Linked DNA regions of Homo sapiens: region 2 is linked to region 1. The links come from fine-mapping of genetic effects on gene expression. A gene starts in region 1. The other region holds a variant in brackets. All regions are shown on one strand. Distances are from middle to middle.

Region 1 (5,374 bases):
TGGCCCTAGGAAGCCTCTCAAATTTGCCATATTCTACCTTTATTGGGAATCAGAGTTTAGGATTCTGTCTAGGGTGCTTTATTTCCTGGAGTGTTTCTCTCTTGTCACACTCCCTGGTAACTGGAGCTCTGTACTCCTTTTTCGTGCAGTTTGTAAAGAGGGTTGAGGGTGGAGAAAATCCAACTCTGTGGATAAGGTCTCTGGAACACCTCCCCATTTCCCTGAAAGGTCAACCTTCTTGGTTGCCCCAGAGACTTGTAGCAGGGGCTGGAGCTTCTAAAACCAAAACTTTCACTTCACACGTCAGTGATTCTGCACCGTCATATCTGCAGCAAAACTGACCTCCAGGGCTTTCCCGGAAGCGCTGCAGCTTTCTTTACATAGCCTCATCTGCCCGCCTTTTTGAGGTAGACTTCTCCTGCCAAGGGGGGGCTATTTGGTATAGTCTTGAGCCCTCCTCCCCTGCACACATGTGTGCCCCTTTTCTTCTCTCTCCTTTCTTAGGTGGCCTGAATTTGGAAGTTTAGCTGTAGTGAAGGGCGGTGCCGCTCCAAGGTGAGCAAGGCTCCTTCAGGGCCACTGACTTCTCTGTTTCCCCTGCCACCTGCCTCCACTATGTATGCTGCTTCCTGGGCCACTCCTTTGGAGTGGCTTTCACCTGTTCCCTGAAGGCTGGGCCCTGGCTCCATGATGGCAGGCTCTTCTAGCAATGTGCTTCCCAGTCAGGTTTTCTGGTTGGTTGGGAACATCCCTGGGCTGGTCTGCACAAGCTCTTAGGGGCTCACTCTGGGCTGGCCTAAGGCCAACTGCAGGGGCTGGGCTCTCAGGGGAGGTGAGGATGGCCACAGGTCTGCAGAGGAACTTGGCAGCAGTGGGCACTGGAGACCAAATGGCTTTGCTTTTGCTTCCCTCACTTGGATGTGTTGTCAGTGGGAGGGAAGAAATCAGGCAAATGAAAAAAGTAAAAAGGCTCTACCCTGATCCTTTGCCAGGAGCCCTGAGAGTCTGGCCTCTGCTTGGGGGTCTGCAGGCCTGAGCACTGCAGTTCCTCAATTGCTCACTGCCTTCCTCTGGGGGAGGAGCAGAGAGGTCACAGATGCTTGGCTTGCCCTGTGACCTGGTGCAATTCACTTAACCTCTCTGAACCTCAGTACATCCACAGATTGAGAGAGATAAAACTCACATGCAGGGCTCTTCAGGAGACTGTATGGAGAAGTGCTCTGAGAGCTGCCAGGAACAATACTGTCATCACAGATGCTAAATCGGGGAGCCCGGGCTTTTTTTTGTAGAAGGTGGTTTCCCTAGCTCCTCTATTCACTTACTGTAATCACAGAATCATGGATCTTGAACTGGAAGGGATCTCAAGAGGTCCTCTGGTCCAGTCCTGTGGCATAATTACCTGTATTTTGTAGATAAGATTGTTTTAAGTGTTCCTTATTTTGACATATCTATCATAACATGGTGCAAATAAGCCCTTCTCCTCTTGGGGAGGTGTGACTTCCAGGTGTACATGTACGCAGGTGCTCCAGCCAGCAAAGAGGTGGAAGAGGACAGGAAAGCCATGCCCCCTTAGAAGCAAGTGCAGGTTTGGCAGGATTTCTGGGCAGAAGATCCAAGTTTTGCCTGTGTCCTCCACACCCCACCCTGGCCCTGTAGGCCCAGTGAGTGTGTGAGAATCATATTCTGCTGCCCCTCCCTCCTCTTCTCCCTGAGAAAGTGAGGGATGCACCTGGTTCTCAGGTCTGGCCACAGTGTTTTGAAAAGTGGCTGCCAGGACACATGGTATTCTTCGGTGGTTTTTCTTTCAAAGGAAAATCTCCTTGTGACCCATCTCCTTGAAAAACAGCCACCGCCACCACCGCCGCCGCCACCACCACCACTGCACCACCACCAAAAAACTTGGAAGGAAGAATAGGACACACTCCCCTGAACTTTCCCCTGGCCCTAGAGCCCCATTGAATGTGGGGGCCAGAACCAACCTCTTGAGCTGCAAAAATGTTTTCCATCTTCCCACCAGTCAGGCAAGGAGGCATCAAGGCCTGGACCTGAGAATTGATCAGGGGGATATTTAGGGAAGACAGGGGAAAATGTGAGTATGGAGTGAAAAGCCGCTCAACTCTGGCCTGAGTTGCTAGATTTAAATCCAGGAGATTTTCCTCACCTAAGCGATGGAGATGGTGGGTCCTTTCTAGGGACTGAGGCCAGTTTCTCAATAACCTTTACACGCACCAGGACGCTTTTGAGCCAGAAAGTGAAACTCGGAGAGTCTGTTAATAAAATGCCATGGAGAGGATTGTGCATGATTTACCGTATCCAAAACCAGAGAGAGTTTCTTTGTGGAAGAAAGCGACTTGTGCCTTCCCCAGCATCACACACACACTTTCCTGGCAGGCTCAATGGGTTTCCAAACATTTCGTCACCGTCTCCTCCTGACCTTGGTGTGAAAGGAACTAGCAGCGTGGCCCGCCAGCAAAGCCATCGGGGGCGCCAGCCTGGGCGGGGGATGGGGACGGCGACCGACTCGTGAGTGGAGGTGAGGTCTGCTGGAAATCCCCAGCCCCGGCCGCCGCCTGAGGTTTAAGGACGCCTTCCCCGGCCTTATTTGGTCGCAGGAAGTGGGCGGCGCCGGGCCTGCTGGCTGAGGCCGCCCCGAGACAGTTGTGCTGATGAAGTGGTAGAGCTGGTTCCTGCTCGCCGCGGTGCCGCGCGCGCCGGCCGGCCGCTGGGCGCTCCGCGCTCCCAGCCTCGAGTTGTGCAATCCTTTGTAGCACGCCAGAGTCCTCCTCCTCCGCTGTTGCCTCTCGCCCTCTCTCTTTTTTTTTTTTTCAAGCTGTGAGCTCAACCGATGAGTCAGAGCCGTGCAATCCTGACACTGCATCGCAGGACTGGGGGTGACACGGAGGGAGGCAGAGCGCTCGCGAGGCGGACGGCACGGGTGCGGGGCGCGCCGAGGCTCCTGCATCGCAAGCGGGGGGTGACAGCCCGCGCGTCCCGCCCGGGCCCTGCCAGCAAACTTCTCAGCCTCGGGAGGCGCGGGCTGGCGGAAGCCCCGCGAGCGCCGCGGGGAGGCGACGGCGCCTGTTTGTTTTTAAAATCGGGAGTGCGTGCAGGCGGCTGGAGTCCCGGAGGCGACCGAAGGCGGCGACCCGCGGCGGAAGGGGGACAGCCGAGCCCGGAGCCCGGAGCCCGGGCAAGAGCTGGGTAAGTGGGGCTGCCTGGCCGGCGGCCGAGGCCTGCACGCGGCGGGGCCGGCGAGGGGACCCCAGGCGGCGCGCGAGCTGTGGCTGCTCGCACGGCGGGTTGCAGCTCTGCAGGCGCGGCCCGGAGAGGGGGCCGCGGGGGCCGCTGCGCTCGAACTTCTGCGGCCTGGGCGGCGGTGGAGCGGGCGCGTGTGGCCGTGCGGGGGCCGCCTGCAGCCCGCCGCCCCCTCCCCCGCGGTCCGCGCCCTCGGCCCGCAGCTGCGTGTGCAGCGCAGCCCCGCGGTGTTTGTGCAGCTACGCAGCTTGCGCGCGGCCCCCGCCCACCCGGGCGCGGCCCCGCCAGGAAAGCCCTCCCCACCCGGCGGCCCGCGGCGGCTCGGGAATCCGGCTGCTCCTCCTCCGCTGGAGAGAAACGTGGTGTCCGTGGGGACCGGCTGACGTGACGGAGCCCAGGCCCGGAAGGCGCGGCGAGGGGCTAGCCAGCTGAGGGAACTTGGCGCGGGAGCCCCTTCCCCTGCCAGCGTGCACGGGAAAGTGGGCCTGGACGCGGCGTCCACGCCAGGAGTTTGGGGGACAGAGGTGCAGGGGCGTTGGGGAACTGGGGCAAATGCAGTCAGCAGAGGCCTAGGCTGGAGCGCTTCGCGCGGGCGGGCGCACCTCAGACCTGTCATCCTCCCGCGCGCCCCCGCACGCCCGCGCCGCCGCAGCCCTCCCAGCCCGCGCGGTGCCTCGCGGGGAGCTGTGTTCCCTGGTGCCTGGCGGCAGCGCCGAAACCCGGGATTCGGCCGGGCCCTGCATATGGCCGGCTTGGTGGAGCTGGTCACGTCGCCTCCCAAGTCGCACATGCAGGACCATGTGTGTCAGGTTGCCCCCAAGGCCTCTGGGTAAAGGTCTAGGGGAGGAAGGGGAACTTCGTGTGCCCTGGGGCCTTCAGGCTTCAGCCCCAAGGCGGGCCGACATGGAGGAGGTACCTGCCACAGAAAGTGGAGGCCGGGTGTCCGTCCCAGCCCAGCCTCCAGCGAGAGCTGGTGAGAAGATGAAAGGGGAAGTTATATGCCCCATTTAAAACTTTGTTGGTCACAACTACGGTGGCTGCTTCCTGTTTCCACCATCCCACGTGGGACCTGTGTGCCAGCCTGTGGAGCCTCGCGCGGGGGGCGGTGGGATGGGGGAAGAGAGGCTGGCCACGGAGGCCCCGGTGGCCCGCGTATGCAGGGGATCCCTGTTGGCAGCTGCGGCTGGGGGAGGGAGGGGATGTCTGGCTTGCTCCAGCAGGGGGAGCCTGGCCAGGTGATCTGGGATCTTCTTGTTCCTGTAGCTTCAGGGTTGAGACTGAAGGCCTAGTGAAGGTGGACCGAGAAGCCAGTCCTCCCTAGGGGGCCTCAGCTGAGGGGAGAAACCACCTGTCTTGCTCTAGAGCCTCCCACCAAAGGTGTGGCACACGCCCCTTTTGGATCAGAGAAATGCACCCTTTCCTTGGGTGTTAAGTGGCTTCAGAACCCAGGGAAAAGGAGAAGCCTTCCCGGGTTGAGAATTCGTAGGTCTTCCTTTTCCAACTGCTCTGGACAGTGAATAATAGGAGCGTAAACATTCAATTACTGTGATAAACCATCTCGTTGCATGGCCCTGGTCCAGTCTCCACTCTAATTGGATTGGCCTCTGGCTGGTTACTCTGGTCCGTGTAGCTCCCGGGGGGACAAGGGGGTGAAGAACCTGGAGGATGCCCCCAGGTCATACAGCTTGCCAGCTTGCTCTGGAACAGCCTAGCCACTGCCAGTGTGGCCTCTCCAAGTGCCAGCAGAACCCCCACTCCCGTGACTCTGTCAGCTCCTCACCCCGCCCCAGGAAAGAGCGCCCTGGAGTGCCCATGGGGATGAGAATTTAATTTTTACATGTGGGATTTTAAAATAGCCCCAGTGTTTGACCCTGTGTGCTGCTGCTTTCAATAAGTGGAACACAAGAAAAGACAACATGCAGTTGTGGATTCAGCTGAGGGCCTCCTGTGTCTAGAGTCCCCAGAGAAAGGCTGCCCAGGGGTGCCAAGACCTCTGACAGAAGAGGGGAAGGGGAATGGGCCCAGTCCAGGAATCTTCAGGTTGAGAGCCCCTCTCTTGCATTTGGGTCTCCCAGAAGAAAACTTTGCTCATGCTGGGGTGGGGACAGCCACAAAGTGG
Region 2 (5,374 bases), 90 kb after region 1:
GTTCTGGAGTACATTTATCTGCAAACTATTTCTTTATAGATAACTCAAAGTTACATTTAGCCTGAAATATAATAATTCTGAATTTCTGTATTACAATTTAATATTTTACGCTTTATGCACAATGTCTCTATATTTGAAATTTTTCCATCTAAGGCTCAGAAACTGGACAGAAGGCTAAATATCCTTAAACTTACCAATTTATTTAGAACATCACAAATATCAAATTTTGCCCAGGTGTGGTGGCTCACGCCTGTAATCCCAGCACTTTGGGAGGCCGAGGCAGGCGGATCATGAGGTCAGGAGATCGAGACCATCCTGGCTACTACGGTGAAACCCCATCTCTATTAAAAAAATACAAAAAAATTAGCCAGGTGTGGTGGTGGGCGCCTGTAGTCCCAGCTACTCGGGAGGCTGAGGCAGGAGAATGGCATGAACCCGGGAGGCGGAGGTTGCAGTGAGCTGATATTATGTCACTGCACCCTAGCCTGGGTGACAGGGCAAGACTCCGTCTCAAAAAAAAAAAAAATCAAATTTTTACAGATCATTAAGAATTTTACTCACCATATCCAATTAGAAAACAAATAATTCATCTGATGGTTATTATTTTGGGTTAGGAAACTTCCTTTATTTAATCCCAGAATCTGACCCTTAAGAATTTCTTTTTTTTTTTTTTTTTTTGAGACAGAGTCTCGCTCTGTCACCCAGGCTGGAGTGCAGTGGCGCAATCTCAGCTCACTGCAACCTCCGCCTCCTGGGTTCATGCCATTCTCCTGCCTCAGCCTCCCAAGTAGCTGGGACTACAGGCGCCCGCCACCACACCCAGCTAGTTTTTTTGTATTTTTTTAATAGAGATAGGGTTTCACCGTGGTAGCCAGGATGGTCTCCATCTCCTGACCTCGTGATCTGCCTGCCTCGGCCTCCCAAAGTGCTGGGATTACAGGCGTGAGCCACTGCTCTCAGCCTGACCCTTAAGAATTTCCAGCATTTTATAAACTCATCAGTACCTCTTTATGCAGGTAAATAGAATCACAGAGGTGGAAATATAATTCAGAGTTTGGCTAACAAATTTGAGATAATTCCAAAATTGCACCTCTGAACATGACTCCTATTCAGGGTTACCACTGTTTCTGTACTGGGCAGGATGGTCATGTTAGCCTGTTTTGTCTTGGGAGGTTACTGTTGGAAACCACTGCAATTTCAGCTCCCCACTGCCTCTTACGAAGCACAAGCTAGATTTATTGGGAGGGGAAAAGCAGCCAGGGCCATACAAAATTTCAGTATGTTTATGAATTATTTAACAATAAACATCAAAAAGTATTGTCTTTTCGGGAACAGATACAAGAAATATTCACTTCATCTTTCCTGAAATTGCCTAGTTTTACGTTATTGTTCCATCTCACATTCTTTGGAAGGAAATTCAAATGGCCAATAAATATAGAAATAAGACATGTCAAAAAAATTTTAAATGCCCAAGGCTGGTATGGGAAATTGGGAAACCTCACACGTTACTGGTGGGAGTACAGGTTGTTGCAAACCTATTGAAGGGTAACTTGAGAATATGTCACAAAAGCCTTAAAAGAAACTGATACCTTTTGACCTAGTAATTCCATTTCAAGGAATTTATCCAAGAAATTATTCATAGATGTGTGCAAATTAAATAAATAAAATAATAATAAATAACAACCTACCAGTCCATTTAAGTTCTTTATGTTGTTTCTTCCTAAAGATAATATCCTCAAGTTTTCTGTAGTGAAAAGAAAACATTTTTTTGTTTACTAGAATCATATTACACAATTGTTGTAAATCTAGAATAATAAAGCTTTAATAAGTTTTATATAATAGATATCCTTATACAATGAGTAAGAAAGGTTGTGTTAACAAAAATGGGTAATCAAGTAGAAATAACATTGACCTATCATCTAAAGTAAACAGTACAGGTATAATTTCATAACATGTCAATATTAAATTTAAAAATGGTTAGCTATCTGGAACACATGGTCTTAAATTGCTGGCTAATAAAAATATTACAGGATAAAATAGCAGTAGAGAATATTTTGAGTTTGGGAGCATATATATTTCAAATCTCTTACAAGAACTCATACTAGAAAATAAGAACATATATTTATATATTGTCCATCTCACTCCATGAAGGATCAGAAGTGAAAAAAAATAAATTTGGTATTTAAAAAATCATTTTCTTTCAAGTTTTTAAATAATTAGACTGTGATTTGGTTAAAAAATAAAATGCCTGGCCGGGC[G/A]TGGTGGCTCACACCTGTAATCCCAGCACTTTGGGAGGCTGAGGCGGGCGGATCACGAGGTCAGGAGATCGAGACCATCCTGGCTAACACGGTGAAACCCCGTCTCTACTAAAAATACAAAAAATTAGCTGGGTGTGGTGGTGGGCACCTGTAGTCCCAGCTACTCGGGAGGCTGAGGCAGGAGAATGGTGTGAATTCAGGAGGCGGAGCTTGCAGTGAGCCGAGATCTCGCCACTGCACTCCAGCCTGGGCGACAGAGCGAGAATCCATCTCAAAAAAAAATAATAATAAAAATAAATAAAAAATAAAAAATAAAATAAAATGCCTATCTTTATTTTTTAAAGGTTATTTCTATTTGTATATCTATAGGCTATTTCTGGAAGAGAAAAAAGAAAGTAGAAACCGTGGTTGTCTTTGGGGAGGAACTAACAGAAGTAGACATTTCCCATTGTAACCTCTTTTGAACCATTTGAATAAAACCAGGTGCATATATTATTTTTCCAAATTAAAAATAAATTTCTTTTTGAAACACCCAGGAAACCTCATTTCTGTTCCAAGAAACTACTGTGATTACTTTTGCTTATTACTATATTTAATTTTCATAACTTAAACATCTATAACTTCTTTGTCTAATATGGTGGTCACTAGCCACATGTGGCTCTTTAATTAAAATTAATTACAATTTAAAATTCAGTTTCTCAGTCACATTAGCCACATTTCATAGTGCTTAATAACTATATGTAGCTAGTAGCAACTGTATTGGGACAGTGCTGACAGTTCTGTTGGATGACATTGTTCTATAACATCCATAATTGAATGGTAAGAACTCAAATCCAATTAACTGAGTTTCAATCCCAACTCTCTAGGGAAGCAAACAAACCTCTTTGAATCTATTTTCCCATATATAAAATGGGGAAATATAATTTCTATCTTATAGGAATTTAAGGATGAAATGAGATAATTACCTAAAATATTCAGTGAAATGTGTAACCCATGGTAAGTACACAATACAGATGTGTGTGTGAATGTGTGTGTGTGTGTGTATGTGTGTGTGTGAGAATCAGGCATATATAACTTCAATTTATTTAATAAATTAATTTGTCTTACAAGAAACAATGAGCTTTTAGAGCAAGGTATTTTAAGAGTGGTCTAATTCACACAAAATGATTTAACTGTTGAAGCAAGACCCCATGTTATGGGCTGAACTGTGTCCCCCGGAAAATTCATATCTTTAAATCCTAATCCCTAGTATCAGAATAGGACTGCATTTGGAGACAGAGCCTGTAAAGAGGTAATTGGGCCAGGCATTGTAGCTTATGCCAATTATCCCAGCACTTTGAGAAGGTGAAGTGGGAGTATCATTTGATGCCAGAAGTTCGAGACCAGCCTGGGCAACATAGAAAGACTCTGCCTTTACAGAAATAAAAATAAAAAATAAAAAATAAAAAATTTAGACCGGGCGTGGTGGCTCATGCCTGTAATCCCAGCACTTTGGGAGGCCGAGGCGGGTGGATCACGAGGTCAGAAGATCGAGACCATCCTGGCCAACATGGTGAAACCCCATCTCTACTAAAAATACAAAAATTAGCTGGGCATGGTGGCGCATGCCTGTAATCCCAGCTACTTGGGAGGCTGAGGCAGGAGAATCGCTTGAACCCGGGAGGCGGAGGTCACAGTGAGCCAAGATTGCGCCACTGCACTCTAGCCTGGTGACAGAGCAAGATTCCCTCTCAAAAAAAAGTTTAGCTGGGCATGGTGGCACATGCCTGTAAGCCTAGCTACTCAGGGAGGCTGAGGCAGGAGGATGGTTTCAGCACAGGAGTTTGCACCACTACACTCTAGCCTGGGTAACAGAGTGAGACCCTGTCTAAAAGAAAAAAAGAAAAAGGTAATTAATTGGGCCATTTGGACACTTAAAAAAAAATAAAGGGGTAATTAAGGTAAAATGAGGTCATTTGGATGGGCCCTAATCCAACATGATCGGTATCCTTGTAACAAGAGGCAATTTGGACATAGACACAGAGAAAAGAACATGTACAGAGAGAGGGAGGGGCCAGGTGTAGAGGCTCACGCCTGTAATCCCATCACTTTGGGAGGCCGAGGCGGGTGGATCACTTGAGGCCAGGAGTTTGAGACCAGCCTGGCCAACATGGCGAAACCCTGTCTCTACTAAAAATAAAAAAATTAGCTGGGCATGGTGGTGTGTCCCTGTAATCCCAGCTACTCGGAAAGCTGAGGCAGGAGAATTGCTTGAACCTGGGAGGCGGAGGTTGCAGTGAGCCAAGATCGTGCCATTGCACCCTAGCCTGGGTGATAGAGCAAGGCTCTGTCTCAAAAAAAAAAGAGACAGAGGGAGAAGACGGCCATCTACAAGCCAAGCAGAGCGGCCTCAGAAGAGATCAACCACACTGACATCTTGATCACAACTACAGGACTTTTACCCTCCAGAACTGTGAGAAAATTTCTATTGTTTAAGCCACCCAATCTGTGGGACTTTGTTACAGCAACCTAGCAAATTAATATATCCCATATAACTATAAATTTATGAAAATTAAATATTTAAGAAAATCACATAATTATTCTTTAAAGCTTCTTGATATGAAAAAACACCATTTTCTTTTTTCTATTTCATGAAGAATTAAACGCTTATTCGATAACTTATTCACTCAACACATAAGTTACTGACCATCTACTATACACCAGGAACAGCAATAAGCACTTGCAATATTACAGCAAATAATACAGACAAAAATTCCTGCTATCAAGGAGCTAACATTTGGCAGATAAACAAAATAAGTAAGTATATTAGATAGTGAAAAATGTGAAGGAGAAAAGAAATAAGCAGGTAAAAGGAATGAAATATCAGGAGGTTGGGAACAGTTGATTTTTTGATAGGAGATGATGTTAGGGAAAGACCCAAAGGAAGTTAGTAAGGGAGTTCACCATGCACATATCTGGAGGAAGAACATTTACACGCAAGAGAACTTCAAGTACAAAGGCTTTGAGGCAGGACCGCATAAGCTGAGAGAATGAAGGAAGAGTAATAGGACATGAAATTAGAAGAAATATTCTTGGTTGTAAGTAAGTCCATACGTATAATATGAAAGAAATTAGAG

Direction of the effects. Positions count from the first base shown, and alleles are read on the strand shown. Sizes are in standard deviations (SD) of each study's normalised expression.
In carriers of allele A in region 2, the expression in fibroblasts of the gene that starts at base 2,661 in region 1 tends to be higher than with G alone (moderate effect, 0.41 SD a copy in GTEx).

What was found. PIP is the estimated chance that this variant, and not a neighbour inherited with it, causes the effect.
Region 2: its variant is the best candidate, but not a certain one, in a credible set for the expression of MIDEAS in fibroblasts (GTEx, PIP 0.66).

What each region holds. Positions count from the first base shown.
Region 1 is chr14:73,757,590-73,762,963 of GRCh38, reverse strand. It overlaps MIDEAS (mitotic deacetylase associated SANT domain protein), which reads left to right and starts at 2,661. Exons shown (of 13, transcript NM_001367710.1): 1 at 2,661-3,201. MIR4505 (microRNA 4505) reads right to left here and starts at 4,217; the gene lies at 4,145-4,217. RefSeq lists enhancers at 393-692, 294-815, 816-1,338, 2,254-2,583, 4,644-4,693 and silencers at 3,004-3,243, 3,374-3,523, 3,884-3,993.
Region 2 is chr14:73,667,912-73,673,285 of GRCh38, reverse strand. It overlaps DNAL1 (dynein axonemal light chain 1), which reads right to left. Exons shown (of 8, transcript NM_031427.4): 5 at 1,689-1,744. Among named protein-coding and RNA genes, the nearest start is that of DNAL1, 26 kb to the right of the region's middle. RefSeq lists a cis regulatory region at 5,272 and an enhancer at 5,188-5,357. The variant G/A (reference allele first, on the strand shown) is at 2,259.